Linked DNA regions of Homo sapiens: region 2 is linked to region 1. Evidence: fine-mapped expression QTL. A gene starts in region 1. The other region holds a variant in brackets. All regions are shown on one strand. Distances are from middle to middle.

Evidence for each region.
Region 2: its variant is fine-mapped to the expression of UBE2B in whole blood (INTERVAL, PIP 0.96).

The regions. Positions count from the first base shown.
Region 1 is chr5:134,370,047-134,372,961 of GRCh38, forward strand. UBE2B (ubiquitin conjugating enzyme E2 B) reads left to right here and starts at 1,523. Exons shown (of 6, transcript NM_003337.4): 1 at 1,523-1,593. The coding sequence starts at 1,550. It also overlaps a transcript of CDKL3 not described here. RefSeq lists enhancers at 642-1,237, 746-815, 1,756-1,855 and a silencer at 1,286-1,335.
Region 2 is chr5:134,153,856-134,156,770 of GRCh38, forward strand. SKP1 (S-phase kinase associated protein 1) reads right to left here. Exons shown (of 6, transcript NM_170679.3): 6 at 1-2,915. Among named protein-coding and RNA genes, the nearest start is that of SKP1, 22 kb to the right of the region's middle. The variant AT/A (reference allele first, on the strand shown) is at 1,712.

The DNA of each region.
Region 1 (2,915 bases):
TCACCAAGGCAGTCACTGGAAGCAGAGAGGGAATTCAGGGTTTGAAGAAAGAGGTACAAGGAAAGTCAGAAAAGTTAACTCTGCTTCCATGGAATCAGGGGCAAGGCTGAGGCAATGTTAAGGTCCTCATTCCACCCTCCCTTTACCTGTTGAACTGAACAGTTCCCCAAATGGATACAAAAGTACTCAGAGTCCTTAGTATAACAAAGTCCTGAAGGTAGGAATTGGAAGCAATAGAGGGAAGGACGGTGACCACAGAAAATATTCAAGGTCTTTGGGAGGTCAACACCTCTGAACCCCCTGGTGGTGGGGGGCCCTTCTGGCCCATTTGCACCTTTCTTGCTAGTGTAGAAAACCTGAAGTTATCTCAGGCTAGATATATAACCCTCACTCATGTCTGCCGGAGCTCTCCCCCAGAATATGAATCATATTTGTAGGTTTCTTTGACAACCAACCACTCATTGATATGCTTGGAAGACTGCACCCCCACATTCCTTAAAAATACAATGGTACTCCCCCACCATAGGCAAGTCCCCGGACTCTGACACATATCTTCAATTGAAAGCAGACCCAGAAAGGAAAAACTGCATAATACACCATCCTTTAATATTTGCCCAGAATTTCCAATACTAGAAACCCCACTGCAAAGCAGAAAGACTATCTGGTAGCTTCAAGGAACCATTTCAGGAGATTGTTGTGTGGGCCTCAGTATTCAAGGCTGCCTTAGAAGATCGTGCGATCCTCTCACTCTTCTTGCCCCAAGTACCAGAGTTAATAAGCCACTGAACCAACCAGAGGGGAATTATTTTTGGTCCCGGTTTAAAGAAAACAAAACAAGCTGTTGATTCTGCCATGACCTCTTGGGTAATGTTGTCTCTATACCTGTGATAAACAGAAAACAACTAATAAAGGTTTATCCCGCCCTCACCCTCTTAAACCCGCTTCACAGACCTGGCTGAAACTCACATCCAGGCGAGGCGCTCACGTGACCCGTTCTAAACGCGTCATAGGGACACGTGGTTCTAGATACTTCTCCCCCTCCCACTCAGGGGTGGATTGTTGACAAGGCCGCGGGCAGTCACGTGATCTTACATCATCCCACCTCCTTTCCCTGAAATCTCTGGCCCGGATGCGTCCCTCTTTCTCCACCCCGCCGAGCCTAAACTAGTGACGGGGAGGGAGACGGGATAGTGTTTCTGTTTCGTGGTCTTTGAATCCACAACCTCTAGTCTGAACACAGAGAACACAAATTTGTCTATTACTTCAGGAAGCCCAGGGGGAACCGCGCCCCGCTGAAGGGCTCGGGGAAGGCGCGCTCCCGCGTCCCGCCCCCTCCTCCCCCAGCACTCACACTGTGGTAGCGGCGGAGGGCGGAGGGATCCGGAGGCGGCGGAGGGAGACGTCATTGCAGGGTTGTTTGTCAGTCTCGGCGGCGGCGGCGGCGGCGGCGGCGGCGGCGATCCACAGTGATTCGGCCGCCGCGCCGGGGGGTGGGGGGGCTGCGCGGGACTTTTTTTTTTTCAGACTGACCGCGGGGCAGCTGCGGAGCATGTCGACCCCGGCCCGGAGGAGGCTCATGCGGGATTTCAAGCGGTAAGGGCCTTCACCTTCGCCTAGATGACGGCCCCTCAAAGCTGCGGGGCTGCAGGGCGTGGATCCCAGACACCTTCCCCTTTGTGACCCTCAGAGGGCCGGCTGTGGGCCCAGCGGGACTGGCGGAAGCCGGGTCCTAGCCTCGGCCCTACTCCCATAAGCTTTGCCGCTCGTTCTGGCGCCCGAAGAAATTTTGATACTGCTTCCCCTCCCCACAAAAAGTAAAACGGTGTCGATCGACTGGTCTAGGGTTCCCTGCTGCCCATTTCGGCCAGCTGCCCGGCGTCTCGCCCAGGCGATCAGACATTATCCGCCCGCCCCTGCACCCTGCGGCGCCCCCTTCTTGTCCCCTCAAAGTGAGCTCCTGCGGGAGCTTGTTCCTCTCCGGCAGCACCAGTCAGCTTTGTTTCACGGCCCCGCCGTCTTCTCCGAGGAGCCGTGTTGGGGCGAACCCCTCTCCCGACTCCTGCCAATCCTTTCCATTTGTGCCCTGAGGGTGGGGTCCAGTGCGTGAGGCCCGGAGGTTAACCCATCCCCCGAAACCCGACTCTGTCCCCGCCCGCCTGAAAGGACCTTGGGAACTGACTTAGAGATCTGGGACCTTAGAGCTGGCCACCCCGGCTGCCAGTGCTTTCTGGAACTCAGCTCTGGCTGGTGAAGAAAGCCCCTATCTATAGCCTCCCGAGTCTGGAAAAATGCCTTCCCTTAGACTGGCGCTAATCTGATACTCCCTGGGCCTCCTTTGGTAAATAAAATAGGGTTTTGTTAGGAGGTATTGGGGTTGTGAGATAGAAAATGATTATTCCGTTGTTTACCTTTTATTGGATACTTAGAGACATAGAAAAAATAAGTGAGAAAACATCATTTTGATACTCTGCACATTTTTCTTAACATTTTTTCTGGGGACACCTGCCCTAATTGAACAAAATATCTAGCATAAAAACTTAGATTTGTCGCTCAGGAAGTCACCTCTCAGCTATTATAAAGCCTATGTGAGGCACTTGGATTTGGCCAACTTATTTAATTCATTCGTAGCTTCTCTTAGCCATTTAAAGGTAGGCGTCAAGCAGTGCAGTTCTTCTAAGGCTTCTGTTCGTGGTGGCCTAATTTGCTTGAGATTGACTAAAAACCATTTTTTTAATGTGGACTAGTTGCAAATTATGATGCCCCATGAAAAACAACTGCATATGTATTTGTGTGTGTATATAATGTAGCATTTTTAATTGAGGTTACAGTCTCTGAAAGGAGATGCCCTTTTTGGTGCAAAAGTCATCTTTCTAAAGCTTGAAATCAGCGTATTTGATTAGCACTCATGACAAATT
Region 2 (2,915 bases), 220 kb before region 1:
CCTCCCCAGCTAGTTTTAAGATAAGCTCAGCATTACTATGATGTCATGTTACAAGGCTGCAGTTACCTGTCCAACCAAGTCACAATATAGTTCTTGCTTAATTCCAGGAGCTGGTGTATTCTGACAGTTGTAGAGTAAAAAGTCACAGCTATAATCCCACACAGGGAGCTACAGGATGATTTTGTGAATCTCTGAGAAAATATAAGAACTGTAAAGCAGTATCTATTTTGTATACCAAGAATAGATTAAGGCAAGCTAACACATGGCACTTCAAAAGAGTAACTTGCTTCTACAACTTAAGAATTATTAGGGCCGTGTGCGGTGGGTCACACGTGTAACCTCAGCACTTTCGGAGGCTAAGGCGGGCGGATCACAAGGTCAGGAGTTCAAGACCAGCCTGGCCAATATGGTAAAACTCCATCTCTAATAAAAACACAAAAAAATTAGCCAGGCATGGTGGCATGTGCCTGTAATCCCAGCTACTCGGGAGGCTGAGGCAGGAGAATCACTTGAACCCAGGAGGCGGAGGTTGCAGTGAGCTGAGATCGCACCACTGCATTCCAGTCTGGGCGACAGAGTGAGACTCTGTCTCAAAAAAAAAAAAAAAAAAAAAAAAATTATTAGAATTTGAGGGGGCACATCTTTAGCCTATGACAATGTTAAGGAGAAAATAATAAGCTAACATTCAGGAAGGTTTTGGTTTACTTTTAGATCACAAGTGACATAATCAATGAAAAGGTGAGAAGCCAAAGGACTGCCATGGAGTCCTTGAAAGGACTTCATCATTAAAAGCAGCACACTGCAGAAAGCAGCATGTTGTTTACAGAGGAAACCGACAAACATCCTTCAATCACCCAAATCTGCCAAATACCTTCTTCCTCTCATTCTCTTTCCTGGTGAAATAAAAGGCATTTCCTAATTAATCCCTAAGTTTACTTTATCAACAAGGGTTTTCTTTCCTTTACTACTATAACAGTAATTAGAGAAAGTCTTCATAATTCATCAGTAACCACTCTCCAAACCAAGGCTATTATCAGCTATTATCAAGCTCTCCCCTCTCATGCATTAAAACTACTCTTCTTGTTTTCATTATGCCCTGTACCTGCATTTCACAAGGACTTTTCACTTCTGTTACTTATACTGAAATTCATGGAGTAGTGCTGCTAAATACAAGTTAAATCCTGCTGTCAAGTGACTTCCAATGAAGTTCTGGAACTAATATAAAGCAGACTGCACTAGATCTATAAAACCGTAGTACCTATTTCCAACTTGCCCAAGGCCATGAAGACACTAAAACTCCAGCCTCAAGGTATGACTTAATGCCACAATATTAGTTTAGAAGAATAGTTGGGAAGTAAGAGAGTAGCCAGAAATGAGTGGAGTTTTGAAGACTGAGGTTTGGCTACTGTGATAATGAGAAAGGACCACTCACTCCAGGTGAAAGCCTAGAAAAGTTCTAGTAGATATATTAAAGGAATAGTGGGCATACAGCAGGGAACAGGAAAAAGAAAGGTAGGAAAATAATACTGCAACCAGACTGAAAAGGGCTTCTTAATACCATGTCTATGATTTATTTGGGTCCACAATGGTGAAAAATGGCTTATTTTCTCTTGGATCTCTATTAATGTAAAAGTTTAAGATTACTAGGATTTTTTGTTGTTTGTTTAGGGACTACAGAAAGTCAGGAAACAAAAATTTAAATTACTACTAT[AT/A]TGTCTGTCCATCCAATCTTTCTGAAAGATCTCATTATCCTTTAAATACGGATAGTGACGTTATTTACTCATATAATTCTAACTACTGCTGAGTATTATACAGATCAAGTGGTAATAACAAGCTCCAGTTTCTTAGAAGGTGATACTTCCTTTACAAGTTAAACATGGCATATGGCAGTAATCCTGGACCTTCAGTGAAGATTTGTTTGTCATAATACTGCTAAGGATACTTCTGGTTTGTTTTTGAGACAAGGTCTCGCTCTATTGCCTAGACTGGAGTGCAGTGGTGCAATGCCAGCTCACTGCAGCCTCGACCTCTCAGGCTCAAGCCATCTTCCCACCTCAGCCTCTCAAGTAGTTGGGATTATAGGCATGCACCATATGACTGCTAATTTTTTTTTTTTTTTTTGGAGAGACAGGGACTTTCTGTGTTGCCCAGGCTGGTCTTGAACTCCTGGGCTCAAACGATCCTCCTGTCTTGTCCTCCCAAAATGTTGAGATTACAGGCATAAGCCACCATGCCCAGCTGCTAAGGATACTTGAGGTGGATAAGGTTTTTGCAGAAGTTGATCTTATAATAGCAGGAATTGGTAGATGAGACAATTCAGCTAGGACTATACACCGCTACCTTCCCCACTAAAACCAGGACAAACAGAAAACAAGCTTATCTCCTGAGAGAGAGAGAGAGAGAGAGAGAGAATTTTAAATAACTCTTTACAACGTAAAAACCATTTTTAGCTCAAAGACTACAAAAACAGGCTATGGGCCTGATTTGACCCACACATTATAGTTTCCTATCTCTGGTACAGACAACAAATTGGAATTAAGTGAGACAACATATGGGACTTTATTAAATAAGGTGAATTTGGGACAAATGAAAGGTGAGATGAAGGCAAACTACTGTCAAGGGATGATCTGAGCCTGAACAACTCAGTGAATGTGAAGAGAAAACAAGATTACATGTGAATATAGATGTTAACTGGAAAAGCAAGGAGAAAAAAAGGGAGCACAAGGAAGAAAAAAAAATCAAAATTTGTGAGCCATCTCAAGCCATCAAAAAAACTTCATTCTATTGTAGGAGGGAAGCTGGAAACAATGGCAGAGTAATTTTGTGTTAAGAATTAAAGTACTAGCTCCAGTTAGGCATATAAATGACAATTAGAAGGGACAGAAGTTATGGTTATGTCAGCAGCCTCCAGTGAG